7 linked regions of the Homo sapiens genome follow. The protein of the gene in region 1 purifies or fractionates together with the protein of each later gene. This does not show direct contact. Each region holds a gene or a part of one and is shown in the gene's direction. Other genes may lie near its edges.

The links.
Region 2: the proteins of SLC6A5 (region 1) and OXA1L purify together in Homo sapiens (affinity purification with mass spectrometry; one large-scale study listed by BioGRID and IntAct). This does not show direct contact.
Region 3: the proteins of SLC6A5 (region 1) and GPR89A purify together in Homo sapiens (affinity purification with mass spectrometry, with the first as the bait; 2 studies listed by BioGRID). This does not show direct contact.
Region 4: the proteins of SLC6A5 (region 1) and UFD1 purify together in Homo sapiens (affinity purification with mass spectrometry; one large-scale study listed by BioGRID and IntAct). This does not show direct contact.
Region 5: the proteins of SLC6A5 (region 1) and SNX19 purify together in Homo sapiens (affinity purification with mass spectrometry; 2 studies listed by BioGRID and IntAct, with this or other methods). This does not show direct contact.
Region 6: the proteins of SLC6A5 (region 1) and TMEM126A purify together in Homo sapiens (affinity purification with mass spectrometry; one large-scale study listed by BioGRID and IntAct). This does not show direct contact.
Region 7: the proteins of SLC6A5 (region 1) and FTSJ1 purify together in Homo sapiens (affinity purification with mass spectrometry; one large-scale study listed by BioGRID and IntAct). This does not show direct contact.

What each region holds. Positions count from the first base shown.
Region 1 is NC_000011.10:20,630,366-20,634,143, forward strand, and holds part of SLC6A5 (sodium- and chloride-dependent glycine transporter 2), read left to right. Parts: intron 1-325; coding exon 326-450; intron 451-3,778.
Region 2 is NC_000014.9:22,769,664-22,773,796, forward strand, and holds the end of OXA1L (mitochondrial inner membrane protein OXA1L), read left to right. Parts: intron 1-127; coding exon 128-271; intron 272-529; coding exon 530-615; intron 616-797; coding exon 798-962; intron 963-1,141; coding exon 1,142-1,246; intron 1,247-1,354; coding exon 1,355-1,517; intron 1,518-1,604; coding exon 1,605-1,685; intron 1,686-1,770; coding exon 1,771-1,895; 3' UTR 1,896-3,379; downstream 3,380-4,133. Other genes in the region: SLC7A7 (Y+L amino acid transporter 1), read right to left, coding at 3,947-4,053.
Region 3 is NC_000001.11:145,617,948-145,621,725, forward strand, and holds part of GPR89A (Golgi pH regulator A), read left to right. Parts: intron 1-372; coding exon 373-476; intron 477-3,778. UniProt on the Homo sapiens protein: Voltage-gated channel that enables the transfer of anions such as iodide, chloride, bromide and fluoride which may function in counter-ion conductance and participates in Golgi acidification.
Region 4 is NC_000022.11:19,462,124-19,465,901, reverse strand, and holds part of UFD1 (ubiquitin recognition factor in ER-associated degradation protein 1), read left to right. Parts: intron 1-627; coding exon 628-700; intron 701-3,778. UniProt on the Homo sapiens protein: Essential component of the ubiquitin-dependent proteolytic pathway which degrades ubiquitin fusion proteins.
Region 5 is NC_000011.10:130,906,202-130,909,979, reverse strand, and holds part of SNX19 (sorting nexin-19), read left to right. Parts: intron 1-1,534; exon of another isoform or gene 1,535-1,619; intron 1,620-1,896; coding exon 1,897-2,027; intron 2,028-3,258; coding exon 3,259-3,355; intron 3,356-3,778. UniProt on the Homo sapiens protein: Plays a role in intracellular vesicle trafficking and exocytosis. May play a role in maintaining insulin-containing dense core vesicles in pancreatic beta-cells and in preventing their degradation. May play a role in insulin secretion.
Region 6 is NC_000011.10:85,646,496-85,650,886, forward strand, and holds the start of TMEM126A (transmembrane protein 126A), read left to right. Parts: upstream 1-1,471; 5' UTR 1,472-1,594; intron 1,595-3,753; 5' UTR 3,754-3,760; coding exon 3,761-3,846; intron 3,847-4,391. UniProt on the Homo sapiens protein: Protein required for the cotranslational protein quality control in the inner membrane of the mitochondria.
Region 7 is NC_000023.11:48,474,435-48,478,998, forward strand, and holds the start of FTSJ1 (tRNA (cytidine(32)/guanosine(34)-2'-O)-methyltransferase), read left to right. Parts: upstream 1-1,764; 5' UTR 1,765-1,962; intron 1,963-2,128; exon of another isoform or gene 2,129-2,234; intron 2,235-3,526; 5' UTR 3,527-3,613; coding exon 3,614-3,734; intron 3,735-4,014; coding exon 4,015-4,084; intron 4,085-4,182; coding exon 4,183-4,273; intron 4,274-4,564. UniProt on the Homo sapiens protein: Methylates the 2'-O-ribose of nucleotides at positions 32 and 34 of the tRNA anticodon loop of substrate tRNAs. Requisite for faithful cytoplasmic translation.

The sequences.
Region 1 (3,778 bases):
ATCAAATTGTGGATTAAGTTTCAGCCAATGAATTTGAGATGGGGGGATTCAGACCACAGCAGATGAGTTGAGACCCATTTATATAGATCGTGGAGTCAGAGCTTTGGCCCACAGGCCCTGAATCAGGGCTATTAGGGGATATCGTCTGAGCCTTTTGGTGCTTTTTAAGTGAGCCCAAGGGAGCCTGTGGTTAGGACATGAACGTACACGTATATGCCTACACATGTGCAGACAAACATGTGGGCACACATTTGTGTGTCCTTCCCCTTGTCCCTTTCCACTCACCAAGCACACCTAATGGAAAACTCTGGTCTCTTCCTTCCAGGGACACTCTAATTGTCACCTGCACCAACAGTGCCACAAGCATCTTTGCCGGCTTCGTCATCTTCTCCGTTATCGGCTTCATGGCCAATGAACGCAAAGTCAACATTGAGAATGTGGCAGACCAAGGTACAGGACAGTTGTTACCCTGCTGTTGCAGGGCAGGTCCCAGGCTCATGTCACAAGCTCCTAATTTAGACTATGCTGGGAAGCTGGCCTTCTGGAACAGGATAGAGGGTGGAGGAGCCCAGGTCCTTCTTTACAGAGGGACCAAGGCAGGCTCAAGTAGGAAGCTCACTGCAGAGTCAGAACTGGCTGGTCTCTAACTGGAGGGATTGCTTTAAAAGCCCTCTTTCCTTCTCCTTGCCTCTCCTTCCTCTTACCTTGCCCCTCTTAATTTAGCTCCAGTCTATAGAAATAAGGGTTATACCTGTTAGGTATGAGTAGAGAATTTATTAGGCAAACCATTGCCTCAGGAGCTGATGTGGGCACAGGCTGCTGTAGGATGACATTCATTGCAGAAGGCCCTGTCGAAACCAAGGCTTAGTGAGAGAACTGACTTCAGAGGAGCATTTTCCTTACAAAGCACTTTTCTGATTGTTAGGTCAAATGTGCTTTCAGGGCCTTCTGCTTAGTTAGCAATGCAGACCTGCAGTTTTTTTCCCCAGTGGGTAGAAATGTTGGATCGTGCTGGGTGGGTGGAGAGGCATGTGGAATAAATGTTTACTCTCTACCCAAATGATCTTTTTATTAATGGCTAACATTTGTATGGTGCTTTCAAGTTGACAAAGAGCTTTCATTTTTATTTCACTTAATCCATATTACTAGGACAGCATTTTGCAGAGAAAGCATTCAAGATTTTAGTTTAACTCTTCATTTTCACCCAGCCTGGTTCCACAAAGGATTTGTATATTTAGTAGGTTTCAGTGATCAAGGGATTTCATTGTGTCTGTTGTTTACCATTATGATCTCATTCTCAATTCAGACATTTATGGGATGCGTAGTGTGTTGGTCATGTGCCTCATGCTGTGGGGCATGACTGTGGCCCTGGACAACCAAGGGGCGTACCTGTGAGAGGCTTGTCTGGGCAGTTATCTTCCTTCAAGGAGCTGACTGCAATTCTCAGATAATGGCTCAGATGTGGTGAGAGAACTAAGCCCTGGAAATGTCACCTTCTTGGATACTAAGATTTCTTCTGGCTCCCCAAGGATAATTCATTACTGCGCCAATTCATGCTGATGGTGCACCAGGGGCCTCAAAGAGTTAAAGAGCCAGCACTTTCCAGGGGTGCAATTATCTCTCCCTGGAGAGAGTGTAAAACCCTGAGGGGTGTTTGGTTCCGCAGCAATGCACTAAATTAGAGGGGCCCCAGGAGATAAGCAATGGCTCTCCCTGGTTGAGAATTCTCAGATACCCTGGGAGGCAGGGAGGGAAAGTGAGAGGGTAAACGGGTTTTGTCCTTAGAGGTACTGGAGTCACTTCCAGCTGTCCTGTAACCTCATTTCCTCCTAGCAGAGTGGTTGGAGCAGATAGGTTCTGTCCCATTTTCTAGAAGATCTTAGGCATTTTGCTTTTTGTGACATTACTGAGTTCTTTTGGAACCAGTGGCCAACCTGCTAGAGACTGTGAATCCTGAGATGTGGGCCAGGTTAGTAAATGATTCTGAACTCTTTTCTGCTCCAGGAAACGGATTTCTGGGGAGATATTGCAAAAACTCAAACAGAATGTTGTTTATCTGGTGTGTAAAATTGCCAACAAATTGCCCATGTTTTCCTCTGAAATTTCTCCTTTCCAATGTTTTTTCACTTCCTTTGATTTGAACAAGGGTAGGGGCACTTCTAACAGGTTCTAACCTGTTGTGTTAATTCTTGTCTCTGGCACAGGGACGGGTGGGCCTCATCTCTCACAGGAGAAGGCCCATGAGATCTTCTCCCAGACCCACTGGGGAAGCTTTCCTGCTCATCTGAACCTGGATGTATTTTTATATGTGCTTTACAGGCTTGTCTTACTTGCCTTGATATAATGGAGGCTCTGCAGAATACAGGACAGAGATTTGGGGTCAGGCCTGCATTCAACCTGAGCCCCACTTCCTCCTTGCTGGGCAACACTGGCATATAGACATTCAGGACATTTTTGCTGACCCAACTTTGGTAACTAAGTTTTGATCTTTAGTCAAATAGAGGTTCTCTTTAATGACCTAACACTATGCGATTTAGTTTACCACTCCCTTCTAAAAGAGGCATTTCTACCAAAATGATCATCTTAAATCTTGGTCTTATCAAAATTTTGAGGGGCTGAGGATGGGATTGGTGAAGAGACCAAGCTGTGTTTTGCTTTTATGATAGGCATAGGGAAGGGGGCATGTTCTCGGGGAACTACTCTAGAAAAGCAGCTTCCAGGAAAGTTAGCCCTTCAGAGCCATCTCGCCACCATATGCATTACCACCTATGGAGCGGTGACTCATGTTCAGAATCTATCCTGAAGCCAAACAAAGATGCTTATCCAATAGCAGAAACACTGAGTTATACCAGAGTAGATAAGCAGAAATTTGCATATTTATTTAGCATTCCCAGGTGTAGGTAACTCTCAGCTAACCGGAGCACTAGAAATACTACTTTGGTTCCCTTGCCCCTTAATAGTTCAGATACCTTACTAATCAAAATAAGCATTCTCAAACAGCACTGATGTCCCACTTCCATGCAGCCATCTGTCTGTCACCTGTATCCCAATCCTTCTGCCCAAAGGCACAGAGGTCCAGGTGGCATATCCTCAGAGAGCTCATTCAATTTGTAATAGTTATCACAGCAGAGTGGCTACCCAAGCTGTGCCATGGGCCTTGATGCATTGCACTGACCAGAGCCCCTTGCTGTGTCTTTAGTGGCACTCTAGGATAAAGGAGGCTCTCATGGTAGGATCTCTGGGGACTCTGCTCAAGTTACTGAAATGAAGAGCCCCTTTGATCCCTTCTCATAAGAAGACTAATAATGGTCTATGTTTTCTGAGTTCATAGTATGTCCAGGCATTGTTCTAAGCCTTTTACTTGTGTTGATGCATTTAATTCTCACGGAAGCTCTATAAAGGTAGGTACTATTACTATTTCCATTGTGTGGATAAAGAAACTAAAGTTTGTCTAGAGAGAACAAGTGACCCCCTAAGTCCTCGGCTAGCAAGAGGTACAGCCAGTTTGTTTTTTGTTTCTTTTTGAGATGGAGTCTTGCTCTGTCACCCAGGCTGGAGTGCAGTGGTGCCATCTTGGCTCACTGCAACTTCTGCCTCCCGGGTTCACACCATTCTCCTGCCTCAGCCTCCTGAGTAGCTGGGACTACAGGCGCCCCCCACTACGCCCGGCTAATTTTTGTATTTTTAGTAGAGACGGGGTTTCACCATATTGGCCAGGCTGGTCTTGAACTCCTCACCTTGTGATCTGCCCACCTTGGCCTCCCAAAGTGTGGGGATT
Region 2 (4,133 bases), on another chromosome or scaffold:
TCTTAGGCATGAGTCATAGAATGGACAAGGCAAGAATAAGACCCTTTCAGTAAGGACCTAAAAGCCTTCAACCTTCTAGCTGCAGAACTGCTTTAATTTCACTCCAATCCTAGTTTGTATTTTCCAGGTACAGTCTTTGCCCGCTGCCTGATTTTTCCTCTCATCGTGACGGGCCAGCGAGAGGCAGCCAGGATCCACAATCACTTGCCAGAGATCCAGAAGTTTTCCAGTCGAATCAGAGAGGCCAAGTTAGCAGGAGACCATATTGAGTGTGAGTCAGTTGCAGAATGAGCGTGGGAGAAGTCCACATTTGCACTTTTCCTTACATTCTGCTGGGGGAAAGGAACAATGTAAATCAGAAGTTGCCACAGTCGGGAAAGTTCTAAAGGTTTATCTGTTTCTTAGACCTAATGCTCCCAAGGAGTGGCCAGGGTTGGTTAGAAATTTCACAGGCCAGGTAGATAATGAGGATGTTCACCTCCACTGATGTAACTGTTACCCCAACCATTAATTTCCCCTCACCTCACAGATTACAAGGCTTCCTCGGAGATGGCACTTTACCAGAAAAAACATGGTATTAAACTCTATAAACCTCTCATTCTCCCTGTGACTCAGGTGAGCAAAAACATTTCCTTCCTTATTTCATCCAGTACCCATGAAATTTCCTCTCTGTGTTTCATGTGTCCCAGGTCCCCCAAAAAACAGGTGGTGGTGGATTATACATGGCTTTCAGTAGTGGGGTGATGAAAATGTTCTCTCTGGTAAAGCATGCTGACACTGTTTATCTTGTGTAATAGGCCCCAATCTTCATCTCCTTCTTCATTGCTTTGAGAGAGATGGCCAACCTTCCTGTGCCCAGCCTGCAGACAGGTGGCCTCTGGTGGTTCCAGGATCTCACGGTATCCGATCCCATCTACATATTACCACTGGCAGTCACTGCTACAATGTGGGCTGTTCTTGAGGTAAGCCCAGATTGGCCAAGTGCCAGGCCTGCAAAGTGAACTGGGGTTGGAGGGTAAAGTAGTTGTACAGAATGGTCATCCTTCACTTGCTGGAGAAAGAGTTGATGGGTAAGAGATTAGAGACAGATTCACTGAAACTGACAGCTTTCCCGACTTTTCCACCCCACTTCTTTTGGCAGCTAGGTGCTGAGACAGGTGTGCAAAGTTCTGACCTTCAGTGGATGAGAAATGTCATCAGAATGATGCCCCTGATAACCTTGCCCATAACCATGCATTTCCCCACGGTATGTAATGCCTTATGGGCTGGCTCCAAGGCCTTCTGCCTAGCCTAGCCACCTAGCAAGCTGACCAGGGATACAGCTTCTGAGTCCCTTCTCTGTGTTCTCACCCAGGCAGTGTTTATGTACTGGCTCTCCTCCAATTTGTTTTCCCTGGTCCAAGTATCCTGTCTCCGGATTCCAGCAGTACGCACTGTACTTAAAATCCCCCAGCGTGTTGTACATGACCTGGACAAATTACCTCCACGGGAAGGCTTCCTAGAGAGCTTCAAAAAAGGTAAGGGCTCATCCTCTGTGAAAAAGGACTAGGGAAAGGGGTCTAAAAATAGGAATGCAACTGACTCTCTTGCTTCTCTTTACACAGGCTGGAAAAATGCTGAAATGACGCGTCAGCTGCGAGAGCGTGAACAACGCATGCGGAATCAGTTGGAGCTAGCAGCCAGGGGTAAATAGTCCTTTCAGGCCAAATTCTGTCTTTTGTTTCTTCCTTTCTGTTCTTCGTTGAAATTTGTTTTCTCTTCTCCCCTCAGGTCCTTTACGACAGACCTTTACCCACAACCCTCTCCTACAACCTGGAAAGGATAACCCTCCCAATATCCCTAGCAGCAGCAGCAAACCAAAGTCAAAGTATCCCTGGCACGACACACTTGGCTGACTTATGTTCTGTGCGCATTCTGGCAGGAATTCTGTCTCTTCAGAGACTCATCCTCAAAACAAGACTTGACACTGTGTCCTTGCCCCAGTCCTAGGAACTGTGGCACACAGAGATGTTCATTTTAAAAACGGATTTCATGAAACACTCTTGTACTTATGTTTATAAGAGAGCACTGGGTAGCCAAGTGATCTTCCCATTCACAGAGTTAGTAAACCTCTGTACTACATGCTGCTTCCTGATACTTATTGAACAGGGAAATCAGTGTGCACTTCAGAAAACTGAAGAATACCCAGCATTTTGGGAGGCCGAGGTGGGTGGATCACCTGAGATCAGGAGTTTGAGACCAGCCTGGCCAACATGGGGAAACGCCATCTCTGCTGTTTTACAAAAATAGCCACACGTGGTGGTGCACACCTGTAGTCCCAGCTACTCGGGAGGCTGAGGCAGGAGAATTGCTTGAATCCGAGAGGCGGAGGTTGCAGTGAGCCAAGATCGCACCACCGCACTCCAGCCTGGGCAATAGAGGGAGACTGTCTCAAAAAAAAAAGAAAACTGAAGAATAGAGTGAGTCATGATTGCTTTTGCTGGCCCATGGCCTTGGAAAATATAATGTTTTAACCTGGCATTAAGGGTTTAAACTTCCACCCAGGCGCAGTGGCTCACGCCAGTAATCCCAGCACTTTTGGGAGGCCAAGGCGGGCGGATCACGAAGTCAGCAGATCGAGACCATCCTGGCCAACATGGTGAAACCCCGTCTCTACTAAAAAAAAAAAAAAAAAAATTAGCCGGGCATGGCGGCGGGTGCCTGTATTCCCAGCTACTTGGGAGGCTGAGGCAGGAGAATGGCGTGAACCCAGGAGGCAGAGCTTGCAGTGAGCCGAGATTGCGCCACTGCACTCCAGCCTGGGCAAGAGAGTGAGACTCCTTCTCAAAAAAAAAAAAAAAAAAAAAAAAAAAAAAACAGTTTAAACTTCCAACCCATGCATGTGTTGTTCTATGCACATTTGGATTGCAGTCTAGAGGTGTGGCTGATAAGTTGAATGTTGAGATTGTATCTAAATATAGTAACCGCACTTCTTGATCCCAAGATTACTTTAAAAATTTCAAGAAGTAGATGTGTGCAAATTCTTAGTGATAATTAAGAATGAAAGTTCCAGGCTGGGCAAAGTGGCTCACACCTATAATCTCAGCACTTTGGGAGGCTGAGGTGGGTAGATCACTTGAGTCCAGGAATTTGAGACCAGCCTGGGCAACATGGCGAGACCTTGTCTCTGCTAAAAAGTTAGCTGAGCATGGTGGTGCTTGTCCATAGTCCCAGCTACCTGGGAGGCTGAGGTGGGAGGATAGCTTAAGCCCAGGAGGTTGAGGCTGCAGTGATCCAAGATCATGCTGCTATACTCCAGCCTTGGCTACAGAGCAAGATCCTGTCTCAAAAAGGAAGTTCATGTCATTTTTATGTAACAATCCAACATTTGACTAGAGCAGTTTAAGTGTTCTGTTGTCTGCCTTTGTGTAGAGCCTGGTTTATCAGCCTTCAGCAGCTAGCTTGAGAGAGAAAAGATGGATATACTTTCAAGCATAAGATTGATTTTAGTCTTTGTGTTTCTAGGCTAATGGGAGCTGTCCTAGAGATAGATACTATATAAAATGAAGCCACTCAGACTTTAGGAACATAAACTTTTATTGTCATCCAGCACCTGTGATAGTTTCATGTCTCTCTAAAGGAGACAGGAAATTGGAGCATTGTGGGCCCTTTTAAAAGAAAAGAGGAGTAGGTAGGCACACCCAGGTGCTTCTAAAACAACCAAGCCCAAACCTGACATGCTCCTCCCCACAGTCACCTTCATTGTCCCCTTTAAAAGTCTGGAACAGTATGTAGCAAAACAAATAAATTACTTTTCATTTCAAAAAGTAAGTTCAAAGGTTGAAGCTGCCTAGGCCAGGCTTCTGGACAGGTGCCTCCAAAGAAGTGAGCTTTCCTTTTCAACTTCCTTAGCTCTAGCCAGTAGACCAGAAACCCCTGCTTTCCACATCAGGATTCCAGATGGTGTTTAGTTAGATTTGGGATCCCGTTGCTTGGGCATCTCTCCTCCATCTTCCAAATCCATTTCTGCAGCAACTGACATACACAGGACCTGGAGGTACCTTGTGGCAGACCCTACAAAGAGAACTTTGAGTTGGAATTGAGAAGAGGTCAGCTGGGCTGAGTTCAAGTGTCACTGAATGGAACTCAGTGTG
Region 3 (3,778 bases), on another chromosome or scaffold:
TTCCAGAACTGATCCAGGATCTGCAGAGTGTTGAAGAACCCCTTTAAACATTAACCATTATGTACGAATCTGTCAGTTTTTTGTCAGTATGCATCAGGAATTCTAAGTGCTACCTATGACCCTGTCACTTCATCTTCTTGTCCTCAAAATTCTTCATCCACAGGAGGATGCTGGTAATAGTGACTCAAGATTCAGAAGTGCCACCTATATTGATCTTTTTCTTTAGCTCCAGGCAAGTTGCTGTTGTGGCCCTACTTCCAATGACTTGAGAATTTCCTCAAAATAAGTTTTCTGACTTGTAACCAGAAGGAGGTTATCAGTTCAGTTTTTAAACAAGGAAATAACTTCTAGTCTCTGTTTGGCTTTTAACAGATACGTCAGTATGTTGTACAGGTGATCTTCTCCGTGACGTTTGCATTTTCTTGCACCATGTTTGAGCTCATCATCTTTGAAATCTTAGGAGTATTGAATAGCAGGTGAGTAAGAGTACTGAAAACTCCTCTTGAAGAGTTCTGTGCTACATTCTTTACAGTGGAAAAGCTATTGGATCTCATAACTGAAAAAAAAAACACTGTGTTAATAGTTCAGTTTCAGTAACTGCAATGATCACAACAGATATGGGTCACAGCCACCTAATAGCTGGTTTGATAAAGATTATGAGATACCAGGAAACAAAAGATCTGACCGTTAACTCTGAAGAACTCATTGGAGTGAGGCTGTGAAGCTGCAGTCTAGGCTTCACTCCTAGAAGCTTTATTTTTCCAGGACTGCTCGCTGACTGAATCCCAGTAACAGCCCTTCACATTGTTCTGCTGATTGAAAATCTCTACCTGAAAAGATTAGAATTCCTCAGAGCTACTTTAATGATCTCTCTGAAGACTGAAACTCCAGTTCTTACTTAACTTAGTTATTTTTATTGATTTTACAGTCATGGTCAAGTTTGGTTGAATTTAAAGTGTTTCTTAAAACACTTTTTAAAAATAACTCTTTACTCCCCTCCAAATAATAGACTTGTTAGTTTATTAGACAGTCTATTCAAAATATTTCTTGCTTGTTAATCTGCAAGCTTGAGTATGTTTTTAGGCCAGCATTTATATGTAGGGTTCATCAACTATGCTATGCAGACTTTGTTGTGCTTTTTTATCACCACCTGGAAAAACCTTTTAGGAGTAAAGCAGTCTTTCACTCTAAAGTTAGGATTCAGTGCCAAGGTAAGTTCATTATAGACCCCTGGCACTTGAGACTTGTAGAGAGACTATACTCTCAAATCCTTTGATAATCAGAGTTGAAAACGAAATTTAAATTAAAAAGAAAAACTTACTATACAGATGGTTAATCACAAAACATTGAAAGGTTAAAAAAAAAAAAAGAAGAGAGAGGGGCCAGACATAGTGGCTCACGCCTATAATCCTAGCACTTTGGGAGGCTGAGGCAGGAGGATCACTTAAGTGCAGGGGTTCAAGACGAGCCTGGGCAACAAAGTGAGACCCTGTCTCTACAAAAAAATAAAAAAAATTAGCAGAGTGTGGTAGTACACGTCTGTAGTGCCAGCTACCCTGGAGGCTGAAGCAGGAGGATCCCTTGAGCCCAGGAGTTTGAGGATATGCAGTGAGCTGTGATCACTGGACAAGACAATGAGACCCCATCTCTTAAAAAAAAGAGTGAGAGAGAGAGAATCAGAGTTGATAATAATGGTCTCTTGATAGAACAATGAATAACATGTATTATGGTAAAATAGAAGTGTTTTCTGATTCTCCTGCTTTTAAACTTTAATAATCCAAACCTTGGCCGGGCACGGTGGCTCACGCCTGTAATCCCAGCACTTTGGGAGGCCAAGGCAGGCGGATCACGAGGTCAGGAGATCAAGACCATCCTGGCTAACATGGTGAAACCCCGTCTCTACTAAAAATACAAAAAATTAGCTGGGCGTGGTGGTGGGCGCCTGTAGTCCCAGCTACTTGGGGGGCTGAGGCAGGAGAATGGCCTGAACCCAGGAGGCAGAGCTTGCAGTGAGCCGAGATTGTGCCACTGCACTCCAGCCTGGGCGACAGAGCAAGACTCCATCTCAAAAAAATAAATAAATAAAAAATAATCCAAACCTTTTCTTGGATGAGCTAGATATAGATCCTGTGACTATAGAGAATAGACAGGTATTATTTTACATAATGGTTATTAAATTTTATTATCACAACCTGCATCTTTCACTGCTATTTAAGCAGGGGTTGGCAGGCTTTCTTCTGTAAAGGGCCAGATAATAAATATTTTAGGTTTCTGTGGACCAGAAGGTTTCTATCACAAGTACTCAGCTCTGCTGTTGTAGAGAGAAAACAGTCATAGGCAATATATAAACAAACGAGCATGGCCATGCTCCAATAAACTTAATTTGTAAAAGCAGGTGGCTGTGAGGCCATAGTTTGCCAGCTACTCATCTAAATATTGATACAGAGGATTCAGATATTCTAAAGCTATATTTACTGTTTTTGGTAGATGATGTCCCCCAACTTTTAACTTATAGTTAATAACCCGTATAGTAAGAAACATCTGTCATACTATGGTGTATGTTTCCTAAATTTCTTAATTAGTTAAAGAGGATAAGAAGTAGCATTGCTAAAATCTGGTTTTTCTTTGTGTGCTATATAGAGGATTGGGTCTGAGACATATCTTCAGTTATACCTGTTTTTTCATGCTAATGTTTCACCCAATTATGGAACACAAATATGAACCTTGATGATGTATAACTGTCCATTGACTGGACTCAGAATCGTTTTGAAAAGAGAATCTTGGCCAGAATATTCCTTTGACTCACCTTTGAGCAGAGATCATATGACTTCCTATTCAAATATGTAATCTTGTTGGGATGCTTAGTTTTTTCAAGAGAATATCACTTTACTCTCAGCTCAAAAGACTAGTTAAAACATGTGGTTCACTTTTAATAGGCAGTCCATACTGCCAATTAAAGTTGCACTTGTTATTTCAAACCCACTGCTTCCCAAAATCTTTCAGAAGCTTAGCTGAAATACTATGTAGTATTGCCTGGAGGATGTCCAGCTTGTTTCTTTCTCTAAATGTTCTAAAGTAGTTGTTAACCTAGAGGAGCAAAAAGCTGTCAATGTATCTAGTCTAAATGGTATTCACTCCCTGTAGGGTAGCTTTTACTGAATGGCTCTTTGTTTCGTGATGCCTGCCATCTGTACTAAGGAAGGAACAATAAGAAACAGCCCTCTGAAACATATTTCTCTTGAAAGGATGTTGTTGATGACACTGTTAATTGCCTTTGCATTTTCTTTATGAAATCTTTGAAGAAATTTCATTGTAATCTTGTTAATAATTCAGTAACAATAAATGATAATTATGCTTCCTTTGAGGAATTAATTTTTATTTTCTTACAGACATGATGATTTTATCTAACTGATCAAATTTTTTATTTCACATTGACCATTAGAAAACTTAAAGCTAAATTTATGACCTACCCATAGCAACTTTCTAGAATTCTGTTTTATAATAGCCATCAGGCTTGGCCCAATATTTTACCTGTTACCATTGTTGTTCATATTTCCTTATAGTTCATTTCATCATCCTGTATTTTATTTATCTTTGTAAGCCATTTAACCACTTAGGCCTTTTTTGAAACAAGGCTTAAGTAAGTTTAAAATCAGTAAATACAAAGGACACCATCAAGAAAGTGAACCAACATTCCAAAAACAAGAGAAAATTTTTATAAATTACCTATCTGATAATGGACTGGGACTCGTATCTAGAATATATAAAGAATTCTTAT
Region 4 (3,778 bases), on another chromosome or scaffold:
GGTTTCTTTATTTTAATTTCTATTAACTAAAGTTATCAGCTCAAAAGATAGAAACAACAGAAGTATAAATGAAAGCATCTTTGATTTTGAGGAACTTTTGAGAGGACCTATCTGACTCATTAAATCTTTTTTGTTCTTTAGTACTCCCACAGGATTTTTTAAAATCCCATGGTATAATTTGTATACAATAAAATGCACACAGTTCAGCCAGTTTGAAAATGTATACACCCATGTAATCAGAACATTTCCATGTCCCCAAAAGGTCCTTTCCTGTCAGTCCCCACCTGATCCCCTGGCCCAGAAACCTCTCAGCTACCTCCCATCCTCATAGATCTGTCTTTCTCAGGGTTCCATGTGGATGGAATCTCACTGCCCTTTTGTGGTTGGTTATTTCCCCTTCCCCCAGCTTGGCATTTGTTACCCCAGCTTGGCATTTCATCCATATTATTGCATATTAGGAGTTCCATCCTTCTTTATTGCCAAGTAGTACTTTATTGTATTAAAAGCTTCGTGTTTCAAGTACCATCATGGTACAGTCTCTACCTACCAGTAATCATCTAACATGGAAACTTGTTTCAGATTAAGGTATCCATCTTGCCATGTTGCCTTGACAGAATGTGTCTGCAGATTAGAAAACGCACTTAGGAACTTTGCCTGTCTGACCACCGGGGATGTGATTGCCATCAACTATAATGAAAAGGTGAGCCCAGTTCATGCAGGTCATTCCTGACAAGAGCCACCTGCAGTGTCCATTCTAATGTTTGAATGGGGCTTCTTTTTAAGCAGCGTATGCCTGGATCTTATCACCTAATTACTGCCTACTGTTTGGTTATTAAGTTTTCCCGGGTTCATATTTAGAGCCCTAATTCATTTGGTAACTCTGTTTTGAGGATAGATTGCATTTACAGGGGAACATTGATAGACTTATTAGTCATACCTCTGTGTACCTTGGTGGCAAGGCTGCTGGTTCTGTCTTGGTTTGAAAGGTCCCCACTGCACCTCTAATCTGAGCTAAGCCCTTTGCAGGGCTGTGGAGACACAATAACAACCCTGCTGGGTCCTTGTCCTTGGGATACCTGCCCCACAGAAGCTGACAGGCCCTTCAGTGGGGCCAAGTGCTGTGTGGCATCTGAGAAGCAAAGCCTGGCTCTGCCTTAGGGCAACACCTCCTAGGCTCACCTCTCCTCCTGGGAGCCCACATCCTCCTCCACCTCCTGTTTTCTTCAGCTTCCGTTTTCACTTAGCAGCTTCTCTAGGCTTGACCTTTCTGACACAAGTCTCTCAGGTCTGAATGCCTCTGTTTTCATCCCTGATTTTATGCTGTTTAGGTGTCTGGATCTAGACAATTTAACTGTAAAGTGAAATGACAGGACTTAGTCCAAAATTCAAGAAAGCATTCACTTTCCTATTACCTATGGGAATATGCCTGCAGGAGGATGTAATAGTTGGCAATCCTGCCATCAGGCTGTCCCACCACAGGCATGGAGCACAGTAATATGGGTGCCCCTGTTCACTGTGACTGTTGACAATTGACCCTCCCACAGAGCTGTTGCCAGGGCTAGCCTTAGTGTTCGGGAGTGACCACAGCCTGGCTTGGCTGGGCTTTCCCTGAAGCTAGCACTTAGCTCCTTCACAGCACTCTCTGGTCCCTTCGGGGACTGGGCCGTCACAGCTGTGTCACAGCTGCCTGTGGTTTAGCCAGTTACTCCCTTGGTGTCAGTGCAGGGATCCAGCTTATTCTCTGGCAGTTTCCTCATATTTGAGGCATCTGACCTTATTTTTCAGTTCCTTGGGTTTCGAATCACACTTTCTTTTTTCCTTTTAATAAACTAAGAAATAATCTTGTTCCCTTTAGCTTTGTGGAGAACATTTTAGGTATCGTTTACCTTAACTGAATACTCTAAGCTTTTATAATTAATTACAGGCAGTTTAATGTTATTGTTTTTAATGTTAAGGTAGTAATACTACATATAACTCCTAAACTGATGATAAAGGATAGTACTGATACTTTGCACTCTAAGGGAGGGTACATTATATAAGAGTGTATGTAAAATTGAAACACAGGTTTGAACTTCCACTTTTAGAAGTAGGGAAAACTAGATCCTCTAATGGGCCCTTCTGATTAATGTACTGTTGTGCTTATAGAGAATTTTAAACACTCTAAGCTGGGTTGCCCTGAGGGCAGATGGCCATATCAGTGCTCTAGTGGGAGATCTGAGTCAGAGATCAGGATTGAACGGGAACCCTTAAAAGCAGTAAAATATACACAGAGGTGGGTGTTGTCATTGTCTCAGGAGAAATAAACAGATCCTCTCTGGAAAAAGCACTCCAGTTTAGTTACGTCTTTGGGATTGCTGTCAATTGAACAAGCAAAGAACACATAATTAAACTACACCAAAGCAGAGACAATAAAAATTAGATCCCTAAGGAAATCAGCATTAGAATTTCTAGATACAAATGTAAAATAATTAGATATAAAATGTTCAAAGATATTTTTTAAAATGGAATTATAATAGCGAGCAACAAAAGGCTATCAAAAATAACCAGAAAGATTTGAAAAACAATGTTAAACAACAGCTATAAAAGAGTTAATGAAAGATGAATCTGAAGAAATAACAGAATTTCACACAGAGGAGCAAGGGGATGGAACATATGAGAGCTTGAGATGTTGAAGACACTGAGAAAGTCAAACATGCCCATTGCAATCCCAGTAGGAAAGAATGGAGGAATTGCAATAATCTGAAGAGATGGTAACTGAAATTGATTTAGAATTGGTGGTCAGCCCATCATGACAGGAAATTTATAATGTATAACAAACAGAATAAGCTACAGGTAGAAAATACCAAATACAGAGAGGTAAGCAGGGAGAAAACACAGTACCTTCAGAAGAACAGCAAGTAGCAGGTCTTTGAATAGCAACAGTTACAGCCAGTATCAAGTAACTATCATCAAAACCTTCCTTAAAGAATAAGGGCAAAGTGAAAATATTTTCAGATGAACCAAATCTGAGAGAGGTTATTTACCAATGGAATTTTAAAAGCATGTACTTTAGGAATAAGCATTATCCTAGAAGGAAAGCAAGAAGGAATAGGGAATAAATAAATTGGCAAATATGAATCCAGGGTAAATGTTGCCATATAAAGCAGTAATAATGTTTAATGTATGAAGCTTAAAAAATGACATCTAAAATGTTGGAAAAGAGTAAGTCTTTAGACTTACTCTCTTTTTTTTTGAGAGAGTCTCTCTTTGTCTCACCCTGGCTGGAGTGCAGTGGCGCGATCTTGGCTCACTGCAGCTACCACCTCCTGGGTTCGAGCAATTCTCCTGTCTCATCTCAGCCACCTGAGTAGCTGGGACTACAGGCATGTGCCACCACTTGCGGCTACTTTTGTATTTTTAGTAGAGACGAGGTTTCACCATGTTGGCCAGGCTGGTCTCGAACTCCTGACCTCAGGTGAGCCATCAGCCTCAGCCTCCCAAAGTGCTGGGATTATAGATGTGAGCCACCGCGCCTGGCCTAGACTTACTCTCTTGAGAGAGTTGTTTAGAATTAAAGTGTTCTCTGTTTACAATTCAATAAAGTTAATAAAAAAGATAGCTGAAGCTGGGTGTGGTAGCTCACACCTGTAATCCCAGCAATTTGGGAGGCTGAGGTGGGTGGATCACTTAAGTCCAGGAGTTTGAGACCAGACTGGGCAACATGGCAAAACCCCATCTCGACAAAAAATACAAAAATTAGCTGGGCATGGTGGCATGCACCTGTAGTCCCAGCTACCTG
Region 5 (3,778 bases), about 110 Mb from region 1:
CTATAAATGGGGAGGATTCATCAGAATGGAGGCAGTCCTTGAAAAATAAGAGCAGTAGGGTGTGGGAAGGGGCAGCACAGAGCCGTCAATAGAACATGGACTTAAATTGTCAAGACCTGTTGCCAAATATTGGTTGAATCATCAGCTTGCTGAATCACAGGAAACAGCTGCTGGGAAACAGTACCCCAACACTCTTAAGTGTACACATATCTCCTGGGGGTATCATTATATTGTTGTACTGTTGGAGGCATGTGAAGATTGATCTGTGTCTTCACAGATAGCTGGCATGAGGGGTGGTCTTTCAGAGGGTAAAGTTCATTTCCAGTGTTGGGTCACCCAGGAAAGAGAGCCTAAGACGACCTGAGGCTGGATTTAGAGTGGTGTCATGGTTCTCCGCTAGAGAACAGAGTATGGAGAGAATTGTATCTTTTTCAAGAGGTTATCTCAGCACCTATGGAGATGGTGGAAGAAGGACATTTGTGTAACATGTCAGAGCTTGTAAGCAGTGATTACCAACTGATATGAGCATCTCTGGGGCAGAAGTCTGAGGCTTATGTTTATCAAAAGTGATGTGTGTTTTATAGGGTTGGGAAACACTGACACATTGGCGGAAGAGTAGCCTCCCTCTTCTCATCTAGGCTTGGAGCAACAAATAAAATAGAATTTCATGTAGTAGGTGTTAGGGGATATCCACTGCTATGGAAAAAACTACAAACTAAAAAGGGATCAACTGGGTAAATGCCCAGAGTTCCATGCAGATATCATTCATCCATTATTTCCACATCTACTTACTGGATGCCTGTTTTCAGCCAGACACTCTACCAGCTGCTGTTCATACATCAGTGAATGAGACAGATGAGGACCTCCCCACCCTCACAGACTACAGTTCTGTGATCCTGGAGAACAAGTTGTATTTTCTAAGCTGCATTATCTAAATGCATGCATCCTCAAGTGTTCTTTCCCTGGTTTGTTCTCCCCCAGTCTTTACTGTAGTCTGCTGACCACTCTCTTCAGCCTTGTCTTGGCTATGCTAGCTTACTCCTTATGGAGGAATACCACAAGAATGAGTCAAAGAAGGCATGGTGCTGCTCTGAGCCAGCAGTGTTAGTTAGCAAGAAGCACCAGAGGAAGAGTAAATGTTTCGTTCTGTTTCTTTGATAGTTTAAGGTTTTGTTTGTACATTGTCCTTTTTAGCAAATATCTGTATGTCATTTTGCCATTCTGAAGAAATGGAGTTAATCTTTAGTGAGGATTATTTTATTTGGTCTTGTATGAGTAGATAAGTTATAACAACTCAACTCCAGATATCTTAGTTTTGACCTGAGTGATCTTTGTTATTCTTTCTGTACCTAAAGAAGAGAAATTGTTTGAATTGACTAGAAAAACTGATTGTTTGCTCTGTGTAAGTTACTCTAAGCATGTTAATATTACTATGCCCCTTAACTGTTATTTTTATTTTTGATCATCTTCTTCACTTTTCCTTTCTCTTTATACTCCTACCTATGTACTTCCACTGATGCACATCTTGATGAAGGTGTTACCGATTTGGAAACTAGAAATCACCTTTTTACTTAAAAAGAAAGAAATTGAAAAATACATCACCAGCCCGCAGAACTCAGGTTTTTATTTCTCTCACTATTGGTTTTGGCTTCTTTTCCCATGGCGTTGTTTGTTTTACTCCTCAAGGAAAAAGATTTTTATGGCCATGGAAAAAAGGAAAGATAGTTGGCACTAAGTCATTAGCTGGTATTCGACCTTCCTACTGGATAAGGCTTTGCTAGATAGCCTGGCCCCTCTCCTTGTCCTGTTGCATAAAGTGCTGTGAGGCGACTGCTTGCTTGGCGGTTTCCATCTGTGGATGTGGATGGACTGACCCTGCACCTCTGACCCCTGCAGATGGTGGTGAGTGCCATTGTGGACACCTTGAAGACAGCGTTTCCTCGCTCTGAACCCCAGAGCCCCACAGAGGAGCTGAGTGAGGCCGAGACCGAAAGCAAGCCCCAGACAGAAGGCAAGAAGGCTAGCAAGTGAGAAGCCCTCAGTTACCCAGGGACCTTTCCCCAGTTCTCAAATTGATCCCCAATCCTCAGCCAACACTCACCCTATTCTCAAGCCCTAGAGGAAAGGAGGTGGGTCAGACATACCAGTTTTTAGGCAAAGCTAGACCCCAGGCTCCTCAGTTTTCCACCCGGAGGAGCCTGCGGTGCTGCAGAGGCAGCACTGCTGAATGTTTGGTTTTGCCATGGGAACCTGGGGCCCAACTGACCAGGGATGTTTGACTAGGAAGAATATTCTCTTTTGACTAGGATATTCTCTTTCCTCTTTTCCTGGAAAATTGAGATGTTTCTTTCCTACTAAGAATTAAGGCTTATAACTGATCTCTGTTTGCCATCATTTCTGGAAATCTTGGCTCAGAAGTTGCATATATTAGCAATAAAGAGGAAAGGGTTAGAATGGAAACCTGCAGGGCCTATTTTAGTAACTGGTTGACTACTGCTACTCTTTCCTGCACTAGGGCCCTAGCTGTTCCCTGGCAGCATTCAAAGCCAACATGTGGCAAGCAAGGGCACCACATGTACCCTTACTGGAAATTTCATCTATATCTGGGTCCTTATGAAAAAAGAGAGAGCATGTGTGTATGTGTGTGTGTCTCTGTCTCTGTGCTTATGTTTCATGGGCCAGCAATAACAGACTCACAGTACCTAACCTTTTCTTAACTGGGCCCATATATTGAGGGATGACCATGATACCTCTGCTTATGAGTCTCTGTCCCTTGAAACATTGATGTTATCACTTGCAGTTCCTTTTCTGGTTTTATTTGGAACACAAGGGGAAAAAATGGATGTCCAAAAAGGATACACCATGAATAGCAATAATGAAAACTTGCTCTATGCCACCTGTCTGTTTAATCTTCAGCAAATTTTTAATGAGTGCCTATTATGTGTTAGCTAATCTATCCTGTGGGAATATAACCATAATACACACTGATGCCAGTTTTACTTAGCAGAAACCATTTCACAAGTGCACTGTAGACATAGCTTAGTGTATGCGTTAACATTATCTATCAAGAATTGCCAGAATATACATTGTTTGGGGGATTGCAGGGCCGAGTCTTTCCTGGCAGCTCTGACCACAGTAAGCTCCCCAGAATAAGTATGGATATTCTTGTTGTGTTTTATTATCAGTACTTGCCAGCCCTTAGTGTGAGGCTCAAGGCCATAAATTACAACCTGTTTCTGCTCTTTGTTTCTGTACCAGGTCTAGGCTGAGGTTCTCATCCAGTAAAATTTCTCCAGCACTAAGTGTGACTGAAGCACAAGACAAGATTCTTTATTGTCTCCAGGAAGGCAATGTGGTAAGAACCAAAACCCAGAGAATGTGAGGCAAAAATATCTGAGATGTTGGTCCTGCAGTTACAGGTAGTTGAGATATTCTCTGAAGTCAGAAATGTCCTGCTAAATGACTTAATCAACGTTTGGATCTCCAGCTTTTATGCTAAAAGTATTTTCTCTAAGTGGTTTGGAATTCCTACCAGTTCTGGGTTGGCAGGTTGGCTTCTCAACCATGGTGGGTTTCGGATAATGGATGACAAGATAAGAAAGAAAGCTAGTTCCTGGAAAAAAAAATGGATGACCAAAAATGGGTGCAGAAATGATAATCCCAGGGCAGGCCTGTTTTACTTGCAACTTCGGTAAAAAATAAAATCTTTCCTAAAGGAGTCATAGCATCAGTTGGGTTTTATACCCAAGGTACTTATGCAGGGGAGAGGCAGGGAAAC
Region 6 (4,391 bases), about 65 Mb from region 1:
CCGTCTCTACTAGAAATACAAAAAAATTAGCCAGGCGTGGTGGCAGGAGCCTGTAGTCCCAGCTACTTGGGAGGCTGAGGCAGGAGAATGCTGTGAACCCAGGAGGCGGGGCTTGCAGTGAGCCGAAATCACACCACTACACTCCAGCCTGGGTGACAGAACGAGACTCAGTCTCAAAAACAAAAAAAAAAATCAGCTGATCAGCTGGGCGTGGTGGCACACGCCTGTAATCCCAGCTACTCTGGAGGCTGAAGCAGGAGAATCGCTTGAACCTGGAAGGCAGAAGTTGCAATGAGCTGAGATCAGGCCATTGCACTCCAGCCTGGCCGACGAGAGCAAAACTCTGTCTAAAAAATAAAAAATAAAAATAAAAAAAAGACTAGGAATTTTCCTTCTTGTACACCTTCGTGAAAATAAGTCTTTCTATTTGTGCAAGTTTAGAAACTGCAATTACAGACTTCTTGGCACTATGGAGCCTAATGGTCAAGCAACCCTGCAATGGAGAGACAGTATAAAAATTATCTGGACAATGCAACACTTTATCACTTGTTCAGAAATTTGAGAGGATGAGAATAATTAAGATTTCTGATAATGTGTTATGATCATGTATTTATTGCTACAGTTAGTTATATATTTTTTGGCACAATGTTTACCTGCTAATCTTAATGGAGTTAAGATAAAATTCAATTGTAGGCATTTTTCCCTTCTATTGGGTTAATTAGTCCAAGCGAACTGAGCAAAGGTTGCAGGGAGCCCCAGCATGGCTGAGGAAGACCTGGTGAGGCATCCACTGGCTGCTGGGAGGAGAGCATTAGAGGTACCTTCTGAACAGCACTGTCCAATAGAAATATAATGCAAGCCACATATATAATTCTAAATTTTCTAGTATTTATACTTAAAAAGCAAGAAGAAATAAGATGACTTTCACCCAACACTGCTTCCAAATAAGCAGTACTCTGGAGAACACGAGAAATCCTCAGAAAAATAAGCTGCAGCTCTGAGGTGCTGATTATGGTAGGGCAATCAATACAGATCAAAACATGGCACAGGGAGCTTAAGTTCCTAGGGAGAGTAGAAAATCGATAGAGCCAAGAAATAGCTCACCTTTGACTTATTTTTAACCTGAGTAGCTATCATATGCCAAGAGCTGTGCAGTTTTCATTTACCCCATGCCAAGAACGTAAGTAGGCTCTACTGACCAGGAAGTTAAGTAATATGCCCGAGGTACGTTTTCAATGGAAGAGGCTGACTGAGGGTCACCCAACTTATATCTCGAAATTTCACAATTTCTACAAGTTCTGTCCTGGGAGGCAAGAGTAGGTGAAACGAGCACACTCTACGCCAGGCAAACAAACCTCAACGCTTAGCCTCCCGGCACCTCCTAGGGCCGGAAGCTTCTCAGCCCAAAGCCGCTGCTGGCTGCAACCTCCGTCCCGCAGTCCAATTAGCAGCCGCGACCCGGCGCCCGCCCACGCCGCGTCACGAGTCAGCCAAAGATGGCTGCGCCCAGGTAATTTGAGCAAAGGCCACAGTGAACTCCGGCGTGGCTGAGGAAGGAGGAGGCACCCACAGGCTGCTGGGAGGAGAGCATAAGGTACTGGTATTCCGGGGGAGGGGGTGAAGTAAATGTCCCGGTGTCAGGAGAAGCACGACGCGGTGACACGCTAGCTACCAGCAGCGCTGCGCGTAAATGAGAGCAAGTAGAAGTGTAGTTAGCTCTTCCTGCTGTCTTTTCACTTTGCACTCTAGAAGGAAAGACCTTATATTTAAATTAACTCAGTAGAAAGGAGAAATGCCTGAGATTGAATTTAATCCCAGGTTTACTGTCAATTTACAAGGTGACCACGGCCAAATTTGATTTTCAGAGGTCCCACTTTACTTCTCTTTCAGATAGGCCCCACACTGCCTATCTCTCAGAGCTCTTCCAAGAATGACATGAGATAGGTAACACAAAAATCTTTCGAAATATTTGTAGTTTTTACAGGCGGCGTTGTCTTTGATAGATATTTGTTATTAATATCGGAGACAAAATGCCCACAGGGGCTGCCCAGTCAGCACTTATACTGAATTGAGTGACTTAATTGCCCTCAGTACAATATATACATACTAAATTTGATTATATATTTCACCACCCCATACACAAAATCATTCAGAGCTCCTGTACAGCAGAGATTGTGTCTTATCATCTTATCGTAGCCAAGGCCCTCAAAAATTTGACTACCAGAAACCTAGACATAAATTTCTAAGGCTGCTTTGTACTTATTAGGTTAGCTTTAAGTCTAGAGATATGGAATGTCAAGGTAATCAACATTTCCAAATGACCTCTTATCGATATAAAACAGGTAGCAATAAATATTTAAACGAGTGCCTGTAATGTTGTAGGAAATGAGAAAATCTGGTTTCATAAAAGCATGTTTTCCTTTGTTGTTATCCCTGAACTGTTTTTTTTTTTTTTTTTGTAGACCGAGTCTCGCTCTCACCCAGGCTGGAGTGCAGTGGCGAGATCTCGGCACACTGCAACCTCCACCTCCCAGGTTCAAGCGATTCTCCTGCCTCAGCCTCCCGAGTAGCTGGGATTACAGGCAGCTGCCGCCGTGCCTGGCTAATTTTTGTATTTTTAAAAGACAGGGAGTTTCACCATGTTGGCCAGGCTGGTCTCGAACTCCTGACCTCAGGTGATCCGTCTGCCTTGGCCTCCCAAGGTGCTGGGATTACAGGCGTGAGCCACTGCATCCAGCCTTTGTTTTTCTTAACTGTTACCCTGAAACCTGAGCCAAATCTTCATCATTCACCATTCCCTTCACATTTTCACCCTAACTAGTGCAGACATCAACAAACTACTGGCATGTAGGCCATATGCAGCCTATAGCTTGCCTTGGTACAGCCACCCAGCTAAGAATGATTTTTATGTTTTTATAGTTTTTTTAAAAACAAATATTCAACAAAGGCTGTATGTTACCTGCAAAGCCTACCACATTTACATCTGGCCCTTTAAAGTTTGCTGAGCCCTGATCTCAGGTATACCTAGAAATGAAATTGCTAGCTATGTGTGTCTTCTATCTGCTAAATAATACCAAATTCTTTCCCAAAGTGACTGTACAGTTTGGGTAAAGCTACCCCACAGAATGTACACAGAATGTAGTTTTAGCTACCCCGCATTCTTGCCAATAATTGGAATTGTCAGATTTTGATTTTAGCTAACCTATGGGTACCTATTGGTATCTCACTGTGGGTTGTTCCCCCAGTTATAATGAAGGTGAGCATATTTTCATGTTTATTGGCCATTTAACTTTCCTTTTTGTGAAGTGCCTGTTCAAATATTTTGTCAGTTTTTCCGTAGGGCTGCTTACCTTTTTCATGTTGATATGTAGTTCCATGTATGTTCTGGGTACTAACTACTCTTTTGTCAGTTCTATTGCATTTTCTCCCCCACTAGCTTATCTTTATGGTATATGTTGATAACCATAGGTTCTTAACTTCAATACTGTTAGTTTTATAAGTCTTTTATGTTTAGTGCTATTTGTGAATTGTTTAGGAAATACTTTCAAGGATTATGAAGATATTCTGTATTTCCTAAAAGCTTTATGTGTTGCTTTTCATGTTCTGGTTTCTGTTTCACTTAGATTTTTTTTTAATAATATGTATGCAATGATTTTTTTCAGATTAGCTCTACAGTATTATTTTTAGTCTTCAGAAGGTTTTTAAAATTCTTTGTATAAATTCTTGAGAAATGATATCTTCATGTTTTTTAAGGCTCAAAATGGAAAATCATAAATCCAATAATAAGGAAAACATAACAATTGTTGATATATCCAGAAAAATTAACCAGCTTCCAGAAGCAGAAAGGTAAGATCCCTTCTTAATTTAAAAACACCTTTTATCAGGTGGATTTTCACCATTGATTCATTATCTCAAGTTTATCTGGTTTGAGTATAAACAACATGGAATGTGAGAAGGAAATTGCCCTTTTCTTGCCTGGATGAGAGCGTTTAACCATTTTGCTCAACATCACATAGCTAATTGTGGAAGGTGAGGCTGGAACTCATGTCTTTGGACATACCTAATTGTATAATGTTTTGAGTTTTTCCATTAGGCTTGGAGTATAGTAAAATGTAAACATTTACAGACCCATTTAAATAACAAAACTTTAACTTTTAAAATGTCTTTTTTTTCCCAGTTCATTCTGTCAGTATGCTTACCAGTCTAAGAGTACCATAGAACACACATAGCAAGATAGAGAATGTCAGAGAAATAGGATCATGGCTAAAGATCTTTAAGATATTATTAAAGAGGGCCAGGCATGGTGGCTCACGCCAGTAATCCCAGCACTTTGGGAGGCCAGGGTGGGCAGATCACCTGAGGTCAGGAGTTCAGACCAGCCTGGCCAACAT
Region 7 (4,564 bases), on another chromosome or scaffold:
CTGCAACCTCCACCTCCCAGGTTCAAGTGATCCTCCCACCTTGGCCTCCTGAGTAGCTGGGACTAGAGGTGCGCATCACCACGCCCAGCTAATTTTTGTATTTTTAGTAGAGACGGGGTTGCACTATGTTGGCCAGGCTGGTCTCCAACTCCTGACCTCAAGTGATCCCCCCGCCTCGCCCTCCCAAAGTTCTGGGATTATAGGCGTGAGCCACTGCATCCAGCCCTTTTATTTTTTAAAGAGACATGGGTTCTCGCTATGTTGCCCAGACTAGATTCAAACCCCTGGGCTCCAGGGATCCTCCCACCTCAGCCTCTGGAGTAGCTGGGACTAAAGGCACATGCCGCCGCCCCTGGCTAATACTCATATGCATGTTGCCAGGATTAAAATGAATGAACAAAGGGAAGGACATGCTGGAGCCAACTTATACAGGTTGGGAGGAGCTGTTCAATTTTCAGAAATTTTGCAAACTGGTTGTTAAACAGCTGGTTTAACAACTGGTTTTGTTTGTTTGTTGAGACAGGGTCTCACTCTGTCACCCACAGTGGAGTGCAGTGGCAAGATCAAGGCTCACTGCAGCCTTGACCTCCCAGGCTCATGCAATCCTCCCACCTCAGCCTCCCAAGTAGCTGGAACTACTCGCACACACCACCACGCCCGGCTATTTTTATTATTTGTAGAGACGGGGATCTCACCATATTGCCCAGGCTGGTCTTGAAGTCCTGGACTCAAGCGATCCTTCCACCTCAGCCCCCTAAAGTTAAACAGCTATGGTTAAAAATGAAATGATATAAACTTACTCAAAACTGGTAACTTCCTAATTTTACCACATTCCACTATTCTCTATGCTCTTGAGGTCATTTACCCCCATTTTATCTGTATGGTAAAAATAATACATGATAGTGCACTACTGCATCTCTTTTAAACTCCCTGTTCAGTGACCACAGGTCGGTACCTTGAAATCTAACAAGAAGATTGTACCTAAGCCATGGAAATTGGTAAATGCTAGAAACCAGCCTCCCTTCCCCCCACCCCTCCCCGCCACCACCCCCGCCCCAGCCAGTGGTTAACCATTTACCAGCACACCACTGAGGGCATTTAGAGCCTAGCACATGGTAAACACTATGATAAACGTTTTCATTATTTTTCCGTTTGTCCACTGGGTCAGGATGTATAGTCTTTTTTTGTGTCTGGGATGGAATTTAAAATATTTGAAGATCACAGAATTACAAAAGCCCAGAGAGTGGCTAAGCTACACCTATTTAACCCTCCCAATAATGCTGTTAAGTCTATACTATTGATTATCCCCACTTTCCAGACAGGGAAACTGAAGTTCTGAGGCAGTAAAACTCAGGCAGCGCCATGCATTAGCTGTAGTGCGATCTGAAATTGCAGCCGAGCAGCCTCCGCGCGCTCGCGCACTTCAAGAACGCATTTTCCTTACTGTCACGTTTATGCCCCGAGTGGTAATTTCGCTTCCCGGCACGCGAAAAATGAATGGGCGCCATCTTGCGCGTGGCATCTTGGGAAATGTAGTTTACAGGCTCAATAACAAGCACGGTCCAAGAAGGGAGGGGCGGGGGAGCAAATCGATCTTGGCCTCGGAAGAAAAAGAACAAAGAATCGCTGGCAACTTGCGCGTCGCGTCGCTGCAGCCACGCAGTGCGTGGATTCAGCCGCTTTGGCCGTGCCCGTTGCATGCCGGGAAACGCAGTTCGCGAGCCCCGGATACGTCGACAATAGATGACGGGGCTCACGTTGTACGTTCACATCAGGTCCCGGCCCGCCGGAACCTGGGCGATCCACGATGCCGAGTTTGCCACGCTGCGACAGCCCATAGGCTTGCCCCCCCGGGCATTCGGGTGGACTACGAACACAAACTGAAGCCCTAGGACTTGTCGCCCGTTTGCGCTCTCGCCGAGGCACAGGCTGCTCGCGGACCACCCTGCTCCGAAAACTAAGGTGGGCCCTGGGGCGCGGAGGACAGGAATGCGGGCGGAGGCTATTGAGGCACGCCTGCACTGTCCCGCCTGCGGGGAAAGGAGGGAGGTCCGCCCTGGGCGCCGTAGCTGTGTATGGTTCGGGCGGCTGGCACCGGGTGGGTTCTAGACCCAAGGTTTGTCTGCAGAAGGGGACCAGTAGACGGGGTGGATTCGAGGTGGGGACATGGGACGCAGCGGTCGGAGCCGCCTGGAGGGGTACCCGGTGGTCCCGATGGAGCTATCATCTTTGAGGTATTGATGAGGAGGGACGGGGAGTGTGGTCAGAAGGCTGTTTTGGGAGGTTGGGTGGAGCGTGAGGGTGGGGTGTTACTGGGGAATCAATGGGGGCTAATAAGAATATTTTAGTCGAACTGTTGTTCATTGATTGATTAATGAGGGGATGGCAGAGTAAGCAACTAGAATATAACGAGTGATGGATGGGAAAATGATCCCCCAGGTATTGATGGAGGTATGATATTCAACGGGTTAATGGAAAGTGATGGGGCATCGTAATGGCAAGGATGATGGTGAGGTTGTGGGGGGAATAATAGATGGATGGAGGTCATGATCAAGGGGCCTTGGTGAAAGAAAAGATAATGAGAGGCTGATGGTGTTGTAGTCAGAGTCAGTAGTTGGGCTATGGTGGCATGACCGTCGAGGAATTAGGGGACAGAGTGAGTAAAGAGAGGGCAATAGTAAACTAGGGTTGGGGGGGTTAACTTCTGTTGATACATAGTAGGTGAATAGTAAACTGTTGGAGTGTGATCATCCAGTGATGGATCCATGGAGAGCAGGGTGGACAGTGAGGGGAGAATGGGGAACTGATGTGTGATCAGTTAACGTGTTTGTTAATGAAAGAGTTACAGGGCAGGAGGCTAGTGCTGTGATCTATGAAGGGTCTATTGGAGAAAACTGAGTTAATGGGGGCTGATAAATCAGTAATTGAATGCTTAATGGGGAGCTAATAGACCATGATTCTCCAGGCATTGTTAGAGGTTCATAAGGATGTAGTAATAAAGGGGCCTAATCATCTAAGGGATTAATGGCGAATGGGGTGAAACGAGAGAGATATAGGGAGTGGGAGGTACAATGAAGTAGTATTAGGATAAAGGTGGAAAACAAGGGATTAATGGGGGCTAATAGGACTATATGAATCTAGGGGCAATGGGGACAACTGGGGATACAGTCAGTGAGATTTTAATGGGCATGACATGAGCAGAGAAGGGTTGATAGTGGCAGTTGCAGGGTTTAATGTGTGGAGTGTGGGTGACAGTGATGGGAGGTGGACAGGTTCACAAGTGGGCCATCTATGGGATGAATGTTGGGTTTATGGGGTCTTTTGTGGGAACTGTGGGGTAAGTGATGGGGGCGAGGAGGGTCTGTGTGATAAGCAGTGGAGCCTGAGAGTTCAGTGATTGGGTCCTTCAGGCCCTATAAGGTCAGTGGGGTCAGTGCCAGGGCTTCAGTCAGCCCATCTTCTGTGTGAGCTGTCATGTGGGTCAGATGAGCCCAGTTTAGTTTGTGTGGTTCTCTCCGCCCTACAGAGGTAGGTGGTAGCCCATTCATCTGGTTACTGATACTGGCCGGCATCAGTGGACTGTCGGCAGGTCCTTGAGCAACTGGTGTGTGAAATGGGACGGACGTCAAAGGACAAGCGGGATGTCTACTACCGCCTGGCCAAGGAGAATGGCTGGCGTGCTCGCAGCGCCTTCAAACTGCTACAACTGGATAAGGAATTCCAACTCTTCCAAGGTCCCTGACTGGTGGGCAGGTCACTGGGCGGTGAGGTGGGCACAGGAGGTAAACAAGTAGGCTGGGTCTGCAGAGCTCCCTGTGGTAGGTGGGCTGACTCAGAGGGTCTCTGGGGCAGGGAGACAGGCAGGAAGATAGGCAGAATACCGGAGAGGAGTTGGGCACCTGGGCAATGGAGATATGTGGGTGCTCCCCAGGGGAGAGGGGTGAATTTTGCAAGGGTCTCCAGGTTGGAGAAGTGGGTGCAGCTGATCAGGATGCTTTCACTATGTATGCCCAGGCGTGACACGGGCAGTTGACCTGTGTGCAGCCCCAGGCAGCTGGAGCCAGGTGCTGAGCCAGAAGATCGGGTAAGTGTGGGGGTCCCAGATGGGAGACCCAGGAGGGCCGGCTGGGTGGGAGGGGCCCGGGAGCGAAACTAGGCTGATGTGGGCCATGTTGTCCACAGGGGCCAAGGGTCCGGCCACGTGGTGGCTGTGGACCTGCAGGCTATGGCTCCACTACCAGGTGTGGTACAGATCCAGGGGGACATCACCCAGGTAAGAGCATGGCTGAGGGTGTTGGGGTATATCCTGGGTGAAGGCCCTTACCTGGGGTCTATGCAGAGTGGAAGAGAAACAGAGAGGTGATAGAAACAGAGAGAGAAAGAGAGTGAGAGAGTAACCATGGAGAAACAGTCAGCAGGTCATCATTGCACAGACACAGCAGAAAATGATGATGCTGGGTCCCCAGAGGTGGAGCCCAGTCTTAGAGAGGCAAAGCCTGGGAATTTGGCTGACCCAGGGGCTGTGGGCCAGGACCATGGGCAGGCGGGATCTGAGGGCAGCAGT